Linked DNA regions of Homo sapiens. The protein of the gene in region 1 interacts with the protein of each later gene in a pairwise test. Each region holds a gene or a part of one and is shown in the gene's direction. Other genes may lie near its edges.

The links.
Region 2: the proteins of ZNF844 (region 1) and NDEL1 interact in binary tests that used the Homo sapiens proteins (3 or more experiments, as listed by UniProt).
Region 3: the proteins of ZNF844 (region 1) and MESD interact in binary tests that used the Homo sapiens proteins (3 or more experiments, as listed by UniProt).

The regions. Positions count from the first base shown.
Region 1 is NC_000019.10:12,062,408-12,066,158, forward strand, and holds the start of ZNF844 (zinc finger protein 844), read left to right. Parts: upstream 1-2,323; 5' UTR 2,324-2,466; coding exon 2,467-2,469; intron 2,470-3,751. UniProt on the Homo sapiens protein: May be involved in transcriptional regulation.
Region 2 is NC_000017.11:8,452,838-8,456,588, forward strand, and holds part of NDEL1 (nuclear distribution protein nudE-like 1), read left to right. Parts: intron 1-1,958; coding exon 1,959-2,050; intron 2,051-3,751. UniProt on the Homo sapiens protein: Required for organization of the cellular microtubule array and microtubule anchoring at the centrosome. May regulate microtubule organization at least in part by targeting the microtubule severing protein KATNA1 to the centrosome.
Region 3 is NC_000015.10:80,988,002-80,991,752, reverse strand, and holds the start of MESD (LRP chaperone MESD precursor), read left to right. Parts: upstream 1-1,933; 5' UTR 1,934-1,961; coding exon 1,962-2,174; intron 2,175-3,751. UniProt on the Homo sapiens protein: Chaperone specifically assisting the folding of beta-propeller/EGF modules within the family of low-density lipoprotein receptors (LDLRs).

The DNA.
Region 1 (3,751 bases):
TGGAGTGCAGTCACTCAATCTCAGCATCTCGCTCACTGCAACCTCCACCTCCCAGGTTCAAGTAATTCTCCTGCCTCAGCCTCCAGAGTAGCTGGGATTACAGGCACCCGCCACCAGGCCTGGCTAATTTCTGTATTTTTTAGTAGAGACTGGGTTTCGCCATGTTGGCCAGCTGGTCTTGAGCTCCTGACCTTAGGTGATCTGCCCGCCTTGGCCTCCCAAAGTGCTGGGATTACAGGCGTGAGCCACCGTGCCTGGCCATAGGTATCACTTTCTTTACGGCCCAGAACAAATAGCCCTCCTAAACAAATAATGTACATAACTCACAAATTTCTTGCTTACCATCAAAAACCTTGATTTATCAAACATTTCAGGTGACAAAACAATGCAAGTTCCCAAGTTGCATTCTATAAAATCTCTAGCAAACCTTTGTTTCTTTGCAGCCGGCTCCCTTCTGCTGGTTCTGCCTGTTGCCTTCTTGCAAGGTACTTTCATATTTTCCTTAATAAATCTGCCTTTTTTTTTTTTTTTTTTTTTTTTTTTACCTACAACTGTCTTGGTAAATCCCTTTTTTTTTTTTTTTTTTTTTTTGAGATGGAGTCTTGCTCTGTTGCCCAGGCTGGAGTGCAGTGGCACAATCTCGACTCACTGCAGCCTTTGCCTCCCGATTCTCCAGCGATTCTCCTGCCTCAGCCTCCTGGGTAGTTGGGATTACAGGCGCCCACCACCAAGCCCGGCTAATTTTTGTATTTTTAGTAGAGATGGGGTTTCGCCACATTGGCCAGGCTGGTTTCAAACTCCTGACCTCAGGTGATCCGCCCGCCTCGGTCTCCCAAAGTGCTGGGATTACAGGTGTGAGCCACATCGCCCGGCCAGTCTTGATAAATTCTTTTACCCTTGCGCCACTGGCCCAGATAGTAGCCACTCACCCACAACATAGATGAAGACTCCCACAGAGAGAATGGATGCAAAATGCTTCTTTTAAGAATTTCTGGCCGGGCACGGTTGCTCACGCCTGTAATCCCAGCACTTTGGGAGGCCGAGACGGGCGGATCACGAGGTCAGGAGATCGAGACCATCGTGGCTAACACGGTGAAACCCCGTCTCTACTAAAAGCACAAAAAATTAGCCAGGCATGGTGGCAGGCGCCTGTGGTCCCAGCTACTCGGGAGGCTGAGACAGGAGAATGGCGTGAACCCGGGAGGCGGAGCTTGCGGTGAGCCGAGATCGCGTCACTCACTCCAGCCTGGGCAACAGAGCAAGACACCATCTCAAAAAAAAAAAAAAAAAAAAGCAAAACCAGAATTTCTTACTTATTTTGTTTTTTGGTCTCACTCTGTTGCCCAGGCTGGAGTGTACTGGTGCAATCACAGCTCACTGCAGCCCTCGACTCCTGGGCCAAAGTGATTCTCCTGCCCTGGCCTCCTAAAGTGCTGGTATTACAGGCCCCAGCCACCTTGCCTGGCCTCTTTCCAGACTTTTTTTGTTTTTGTTTTTTTTGAGACGGAGTTTCATTCTTGTTGCCCAGGCTGGAGTCCAGTGGCATGATCTCGGCTCACTGCAACCTCCGCCTCCCAGCTTCAAGTGATTCTCCTGCCTCAGCCTCCCACATAGCTAGGATTACAGGCGTCCGCCACCACGACTGGCTAATATTTTGTATTTTAGTAGAGATGTGGTTTCACCATGTTGGCCAGGCTGGTCTCGAACTCCCGACCACAGGTGATATACCCGCCTCGGCCTCCCAAAGTGCTGAAATTACAGGCGTGAGCCGCCGCGCCCGGCTTTCCAGACTTTTAAAAGTGTCAGACTCTCAATTTCTCCCGGATCAGGGAAAGGGAAAAGGGGAGAGGGGGCATGGCTTCACTAATGGAAATACTCCATAGACGCAAATTTCACCCCCCAGAAGACAGTTGTGCAAGGGCAAAGCTGCAGCCATTCGAAATTGCCAAATAAATATATTTTGGAATAAAATATTTTAATTGCTTTCACCTCTATTAAACATAGAGTCTGGAACTCCCTGCACACACTTATGACACTGTGCAGGACGAAGAAGCAGGGACAGACCATTGACAGAGCCACTTCTAGTAATTAAGACGAGCAAGTTTGGCCGAAATGCAAATTTTCAAAGAGCAGGGCGTAGAGAGGGAACTTGACCTTGGACTGTGGCTTGAAGCGGTCAGTCCTGCTCTGCTTGGCCCTGTTACCCAGGACTTCTGCTGTCACTCAGGATGCAGGGGGCGGGGCCTGGCGCTCCACCCAATCAGAGTCGCCGGGGTGGGGCCCGGCCAACTGTTTATCCGCGGGTCACATTGCCGTTCGCCTCAGTCTTTGGCCCCTCCCGCCGGGTGAGGTTGGCACCCCGTTTTTCCTGCTCTGAGAGGGACCGGTTGCCACCGCCATACTTCTGTCGCCCTGTCGTCTGTGTTGTGACTGCTTTGGACGTGGGAGTCACCTGAAAGCCAGGAAATGGTGAGTGTGAGCCCCCGCTGGGAGTCCCGAGACTTGGGGGAGGGTAGGCGGAGGCTGGTTGGAACTGGCTGGAACCGGCTGTGCCGGGACCCGGACCTCCCCGCGGCGACTCGAGGTCTGGGGCCCGAGCCCCGCTGGCGCAGCTCGGCCTTCGGTCCATTCGGCCGCCGGGTGCGGCTGGGCCGGCAGCCGGGACCCCTGGGCGCCCTGTCTCGTCGCCGCGCGGCGACTGCGGCCCCAGCCCGGGAGCCCTCTCTGGACAGCTCCGCGCCCGCAGCCCGGAGCCTCTCCATATTGTGCGGGGCCACGGGAGGGTCATGGGGGCAATCCCGCCTTGGGTGTGGGGCTCGTGCGGGAGGAGCTGCGCTGTGAGGCCCTCAGTGCCCCCTTTCTCCTGTTAAAACTTAAACAGGCCCGGTGCTGGGAATAGAGGCGTGAGCCACCGCGCCTGGCCTAGCGTGGAGAACTTGTGACAGCGGATAAATGTTTTCCCTGCTGTCTGTGGCTTAGAGCTTGGCAACTGCTGTCGTGTTTTTGTTCACATCATGATCAATGTGTACTAGATGCTTTGTTGTTGTAATCGCCTGAGGGGTTCTTCCTGCCTGTGCTGCAAAAAGAAAGACCAGGGCATTGCAGTAAAGAAAATGTTTGACACGAGATGGACCACGCAACGCCGAAGACGGAGACAGAGTTAGCACTCAAATCAGTCTCCCCGAAGGCTTATAGTTAGGGATTTTTCTTTAATATTTTTTTCTTACAATTTTTTTTTTTTTTTTTAAGACAGAGTCTCGCTCTTTTTTGCCCAGGCTGGAGTGCAATGACACGATCTGGGCTCAGTGCAACCTCTGCCTCCCGGATTCAAGCGATTCTTCTGCTCAGCTTCCCTAGTAGCTGGGGTTACAGGCACGCCACCACGCCCTGCTGATTTCTGTATTTTCAGTAAAGACGGGGTTTCACCGTGTTGGCCAAGGTGGTCTTGAACTCCTGACCTCAGGTGATCCGCCCGCATCGGCCTCCTAAAGGGCTAGGATTACAGGCGTGAGCCACCTGGCCCGGCTAAAAATTGTTTTTTAAACAAGGTCTCACTCTGTCGCCCAGGTTGGAGTGCATGGCGCGATCACGGCTCACTGCATCCTGGACCCACCTGAGCAGCAGCTCAGGTGATTGTGCTGCCTCACCCTCCCGAGTAGCTGGGACTACAGGCGCAGGCGGCTAATTTTTGTATTTTTGGTAGAGATGGGGTTTCGCCATGTTGCCCAGGCTGGTCTTGAACTCCTGGGCT
Region 2 (3,751 bases), on another chromosome or scaffold:
CAAGTGATTCTCCTGCCTTGGCCTCCCAAGTAGCTGGGATTACAGGTGTGTGCCACCACACCCAGCTAATTTTGTATTTTTAGTAGAAATGGGGTTTCACCATGTTGGTCAGGCCAGTCTCAAACTCCTGACCTCAGGTGATCCACCCACCTCAGCCTCCCAAAGTGCTGAGAGTACAGGCATGAGCCACCATGCCCAGCCTACAATGTTTGTTTCTAAAAAGCATTTAAAGCAACTTACCATAAAAGCACAGATTTAATAACACCTAAAATGTAAAACTTGAATAGGGAAAAATGAGATCTAGAAATCCCTGCCAAGAACAGTACAGCGGTTTTTTATATCACGTTGAGCGCCTGTTATGTGTCATGTGTTATTCTGGATGCTGGGAGCACAGTGGTAAGACAAAGCCCCTACCTTCAATGAGATTATATTCTTGAGGAGAAGAAGGATAATAAACAACAAAAAAGCCACACAAGTATTTTCGTTGCTGATTAGCACTCTGTGGAAAACAAACATAAAAAATAATAGCTAACCTTTATTGAGTACTTACTACGTGCATTTTTAAAGTACATTAATTTAAACTTCACAACATCTTTATGATGAGGTAGTTGTTATTTGCCCCCTCTTACATATGGGTCACTTACCCAGTGGCTGAACTGGATTTGAATACAGTAGTTCAGCTCAAGAGCCGTTAATCATGATGTCATATTATCTCTTAAAAATTAAGAAATGTGCACGACTGAAAACCTTACTGAGTGTGGAAGAAGATATGGGTAAATATCATGGTAAATACTATGATTCTGAATGGGAAGACTTAATTTTCTTACAATATCCATTCTCCCCAAGTCAATCTGTAATTTCAACTTCTAATAAAAATCCTAATAGGATTTAAAAAATTGATATGTTGATATTAAAATTATTTTGGAATAGTAAATGTGCAAGAACAGCTGAGAAAAATTTGAAATGGGCTAATAACAAGAGGGATCTTTGCCTTTTGAGATCTCAAAATATATTTTAACATTATAATAAAGTAGCATACTTCTGATAGAATAGGCTAATAGTTCAATGGAACTGAAATATATTCATATATTTAGGGAATTTAGTTTATAGTTATAGTGCTATTTCAGATGAGATGAGTTTTCCCTAAATGATACTAGGACAATTGGCTCTCCATTTGGAGGAAAAAATTTAGATATGTATCTTATAGACAACTATAATTTCTAGGTGAATTAAATGATCTAAATGTAAAAAAATCAGAAAAATACTAGGAGAAAGTATGGGAAACATTATGACATTAAGATGGAAAAGCCAAAGGTTCTCCTACCGAAACACAGTGTTTACAAGATGAATGTCACGCTGAGAGATAGAACATCTATAAGAGAAAGGGTGAACATCCAGAATGTATAGAGTTCTTACAAATTGATTACAGGAAAGACAAACCAGTAGAGAAATGTACAAAGACTAAACAGCTGATTTTCAGAAGAGATTCAAATGACTAGTTACTATGGAAATAGAAACTAAAAAACGTGACTATCAAATTGTCAAAAAAAAAAAAGATAATATCTAATATTATCAAGGGCACCACCGCATAGATTGCTGATATTAGCACAGGCTTTTTAGAGAGCATTTTGGCAGTGTCTGTTAAGGTGAAAAAAATGGGCATATGTTCTGACCCAGCAGTTCTATTTTTAGGAATCTCTTTTCCAGAAATACTTGTCTAGATGTTTAAGAGTATATGTCCTTGTAGCATTACTTATAATGGCGAAAAATTTGATATAATGTAAATATCCACCAATTGGACAGTGGTTTAGCCTATTTATGGTATCTATACTTTATCCATAGTTTGAAGTAGTTTGTTGATATTGTATTGAGTGTTACACTACTTTGTAACATCAACAACAAAACCCAAATGTAAAGGGAACTGCAAGTGTAATCACTCAGCTTTTATTTTTCTCTAGCTATACCAAATGGTTTTGGTACCAGTCCACTAACTCCCTCTGCTAGGATATCAGCACTAAACATCGTGGGGGATCTCTTACGGAAAGTAGGGGTAAGTTTCAATTATTTATCACTAGGTGTTTCCACTGACAAGGTATTGAATTATTTCTTAATTTGAAGTGAGGGAAGAAAGAAAGGATACTTTCCTGTGGTAAAGGCTGTCATGAAGCTCAGAAGCAAAAGCATCCATTGACTAGCCAAGTCCAGATGACACTTCATGATGCCCCTGCAGAAGAGCCTGTACCTTGAACTCTGAGGTTCCCACCGGGGCATTCTTCCTGTTCCCCACTCCTGTTTCAACAGCACGATGCCTCTGTCCTTGTCTAGAATACTTTGTCTAAGGCCTGCTGTGTGTCTTCTACCACCCTCATCCTGGTCTTTGCTGCTGTCTACCGTCTTCCTGGTCATTCCTTTGTTTTGTGTTTGTGGGACTTTAACATTTGGCTCATGGCATTACTCTCTACTTTTAGTCTTGCCCACCTTATTTCCTTGGCCACCTCAACTTCAGTGCCTTCTCCTTGGTGTGAGCCTTGTATTCCAGAACAGTTTCGCTTCTGAAATATTAAACCCAGCCGGACGCGGTGGCTCACGCCTGTAATCCCAGCACTTTGGGAGGCTGAGGCGGGTGGATCACCTGAGGTCAGGAGTTCAAGACCAGCCTGGCCAACATGGTGAAACCCTGTCTCTACTAAAAATACAAAAATTAGTCGGCATGGTGGCAGATGCCTGTAATCCCAGCTACTTGGGAGGCTGAGGCAAGAGAATCACTTGAACCCAGGAGGCGGAGGTTGCAGTGAGCCGAGATCGAGCCACTGCACTCCAGCCTGGGCAACAGACAGCAAGACTCCATCTCAAAAAAAAAAAAAAAAAAAAAATTAAACCCGTTTTTCTGCTTAATCAGTGTGTTACTGTGTACCATACCTACTCTTTAACCTCATCAAGAGTATTACCCCATTTTTTAGTGTGTTTGTTTTTATCAGCCATCTCTTGCTTTCACTTCCTTTCTATTCATCTGTGATCTCACACATCTCTTACTCTGTCACTGTTGACTTCATGGTCTCTCTGGCCACAAAGGAGATCTGCAGTCTGAATTACTGGAAACAGTTGCAGAACCATGTGGATTTATGCCACTATCAAGTCAGCATTTCTAGCATTAGCTCCCATTACTATTTCCCTTAGTGAGTTTTACCTCTCCTTTCAGTAATCAACCATTGCCATTTCCCACTATCTACTACCCCCTTCACTTATTTTCGTGTGTGACACTTTCTAAAAAATGTAGAAATTGCATTATACTTTATCTAAAGCAGATATGGGAGGCCAAGACACAGGTCCTATGTTTGCCTGTTTCAGCTCATCATAGGGGTTATTTTCTAACCATCAGATTAAACCTGCATTTTTAAGGTTAAAATACAAAGTAAAGTGCACAGGTCGTTCCTACAGTACATAGAGTAATCTTTCTTCACTCCCAAGATAACCATTTTAAAATCCTCTATGTTGGAGTATTTGTCTTTATAACTTGAAATCATGTGCTTATTTTTCTGTTTATCTTGATTTACTCAACTTTAAGCAAAGATATTTTTATTTTTATTTTTTGTTCTTTTAAAAAAATTACTTTAACATTCTTGAACTTTTGTTTCTGAATGTATTAGGTTATATCTTTTTTTTTTTTTTTTTTTTTTTGAGAACGGAGTCTCGCTTTGTTGCCAAGGCTGGAGTGCAGCGGCACGATCTCAGCTCACTGCAACCTCTGCCT
Region 3 (3,751 bases), on another chromosome or scaffold:
ATATGAATTACCAGGGTGACCCCTCCCAGTAGAGCACATGATCAGCCACAGCTGTGCATGTTTTTTAGTATGACTGCACTAGGATAGGGCTCCAAGCCACTGGGTGGAGCAATGTGCTCTGGGGAGAAAGCTCATGACATTTCCCCTATGATTTCACAAAAGAAAAAATCTTTTTCTTATGAGTTGTTTCTGCTCAACGTCAATAGGAAAGGTCATAGCTTAGCGTGTTTACATACAGATGCATGCATGAATATGTAGAATATCAGCCACTCCTACGGTGTGAGAGAATTTAAATTGCACTGGTCCTAAGAGTGAAGGAAAGCAGGCGTAGTTGCCTACTCAACCTCCACTTTATTCTTTTCCCTTTATAACAATCCTAATTTCATTTGAGATGACAATGTATACAGCTAGAAGACAATTTCTCAGCCTCCCTTGGAGAGCTAGGTTCCAGCCAATGAGATGTAAACAGAAATGTATGCAATGTTCAAGTAGGCTGCTTAAAAGAAGTTGACTCCACTTGAAAGGTGTGCTTGGTTTGGCCTGCCTTCTCCCTTCCTCTGGTTGAATGTCATCTTGATGACTGGAGCTCCAGGAGCCATCCTGGAATTTCTGACCTTGAGGGTGGAAGCCACAGGCTAATATGATAGAAGGATGAGGAAGAGGCTGAGTACCAGATGGCTGAGAAGCCACTATACCAGCCCTAGTTTCGAGTTTACACTGCTTCTGTGAAAGAAAAGTCAATCACAATAAAACCTTTTATCTTGTTTAAACCACCTTAAAAAGTCAGTTTTCTTTTATATGCAGCCTACTAATCCTATCCAAACAAGGCTTGAATAAGGTTTACTACAGCTCTTTTTTGTTGTAATAGCAGAAAAATTGGTAATAAATGCCCATCAATAGGAAAATAAACTATTAATTTAACAATACCAAATAAAACTGTGCAGCAGTATAAAGAATGAAGCGTTTTTTGTTGTTGTTTTTGAGATGCGGGTCTTGCTTTATTGCCCAGTCTGGTCTCAAACTCCTAAACTCAAATTATCGTCCTACCTCAGCCTCCCAAAGTGCTGGGATTATAAAGGCTTAAGCCACCGTGCGGCCTTTGGTTTTTTTTGTTTTTTGTTTTTTAAGGTCTTATGTAATTAAACATTTTAAAGACATCAGCTGATGAGCCGTTTAAAACAAGAAGAATCTCAAAGCATCTTTGGCCAAAATCTTTTTAAGAAACAAAAAGTAGCGTGATTCAGCCTTGAAAAGGATTAGTTAGAGCCTACAGTATTAGGTTGAAATCAAAGAAAGGCAAGCTTTTTTTTTTTTGGATGAATAGTAATGATCTTTTTGGAAAAAAAAAACAAATATTGAAAGCTGGTTGAACTGAATCCTCTTTATTGATGAGGAAAGCAGTGGACTCGAACTATTTATGACTTTCTGAAAAAAGTTGCCCTACCTGCCACTCACTTCTTTTTAACTGGCTGTTCTCAAAGGAAATTGCAAGAGACTGAGGATAAACGTCCGACATCCAGAAATGGGCTTTTTTAGAGCCGAGGCAGCCTCCAGAACTTCCAGTTCCAATTTATTTCACAGGCGAGAAACTGAGGTCAACAGGGACGTTGGTTAGTGGTTCCTGGAGGCCCTGAAGGAACTTTTGGACCTGGCTTGTGCGTTCCAGAGAAAAAGGTCGGCCTCTGACGGAAAACGAAAAATGAGCACTCAGGGACCCACCCAGCCGGGACAGAGCGCCTCAGCCGGACCAAGAGGAGGAGCCAGTGGGGCGGGGCCAAAATGGCGGAGGGGCGGGGCTTCCAGAGGCGGGGGTTAGGAAATGGTACGGGGCGGGGCCCGGTAGGCTAGCGAGGGCCGGGAGGCGGGGCCTCGGAAAGGCGGACAGGAAGGCGTGTGCAAGGCGGGGTCCGGCCCGCGCAGGTCGGGTAAGCGCGTCTAGGGCGCTGCGCGGCGCAGCGAAAATGGCGGCTTCCAGGTGGGCGCGCAAGGCCGTGGTCCTGCTTTGTGCCTCTGACCTGCTGCTGCTGCTGCTACTGCTACCACCGCCTGGGTCCTGCGCGGCCGAAGGCTCGCCCGGGACGCCCGACGAGTCTACCCCACCTCCCCGGAAGAAGAAGAAGGATATTCGCGATTACAATGATGCAGACATGGCGCGTCTTCTGGAGCAATGGGAGGTCCGCGGCGCGCGCACACCCTCCCGGCTCTTCTCTGTGCGGGACCCTGTTCCCTATGACCCCTTACCTGTTCTGTCTTGGGACCTTTCTGACCCCCTAACCTCCTCTACTCATGCCTTGAATCCTTACTGACCCACTGAAGCCACTGTTGACCCTCCATTCCTCCTCTGACCCGCGCGCCCTGCTGACCCTCGCTCCAGCCCTCTGTCATTCCAGTGCCCTGTTCCTCCTGCCATTTCTCAAACCACTTCAATCACGGATCTGCCCCTCACTGTTCAGCTTTGCTCTCCCTTCACCCTTCAGTGCCCTGGTTGTCTTTGCGTTGATTCTTGTGGTCAGTGAGCCCTGCAAACAGGGAGAGTGACCTTTCCCAATCTACTAAAGAGCATTTCCTTCTGTTTTGCGGTGAGTGGGTGGGAGAGTGGGTTGCAGTGAAGATGGTCTTCCTTAATGGTTATCTCAGCTGTCTTCTAAATCAGTATAATTTTAGACTTCCTATTTTGGTATATGTCCCTGCTGGGAATTTTGTGCTTTTTGTGGGTGGATTTATTTTACTGAGGGGAGAAGTATCAATGGCTAATGGCTCTGTATCGTGAAACTCACGCTTTTTGTTCAAAGGAGAGTAAGTTTTCTGGTTTGTCACTTGGACGCACCGGAGTGTGCAGTTACAGGGAGTGTGTAATACGCTTTAAGGTAAAGATTACTGGCCAAAACCACATTGCTGCCTTTTCCCCTTCCTAAGGTGATTGTATCGTCCTGGTTGACTTGCATAGCTGTGGAACCTTGGGCAGGTTATGTCTAGTTTCTAGGCCTCGGTTTCTTTATCTGCAACATGAGGAGGTTAGGATGGGTCCTAAGATTCCTTCCAACACTGATGTTTTGTTATTTTGTGATTATCTCTGTGTGTGTTACGGGAGAAGGGAAAGACTTTCAGACAAGAGTTTAAAATACCACCTGATGCATCTGACTAGAAGAATGCAGGCTTGTGTTTTCATGTGGTCATCAACAGCTGATGGAAAGATTGGGATAGATTTGAGTGTAGAGAGAACGTCCCCATTCACCGTCTCCCTTGCAATCTCCTTGTCTCTTTTTGGACTCCAGCAAATAAAGCCTTTTGATCTGCCAGAGTGAGAACATCACCTCATGAGAAATCCTCCCCTTGACCTACTCAGACCCTGAGCTAGACGAAGAGGGTGCTGAAGAGATGAACAAAGATTGCACTGGGAACAGTAGATAACAGGATGGATGAGTGGGGAGAGACTTTGAAGGCCAAGAAAAACACATTATCTCATTTAATCCTTTTACCCCATCCATGAGGGAGGTACTTATCCCTATTTTCTAGATGATGACATTGAGACACAAAGAGGTTAAATAACTTGCTCCACATCGCACAGCAAGCTAGCTGAGTTTCAAATTCTTTCGCGACTTTTAGAGCCAGTTCTTTGAACTGTTTTACCTGTACTGCCACACATGTTGGTGACAGAAGTGCAAATGAAGGATAGTGAGGAAGACGTGGATTAAGCTAGAAACTGCAGGAGCAGAGTAGAAGGGAGAAATGTGAGATTTTTATACTTTTA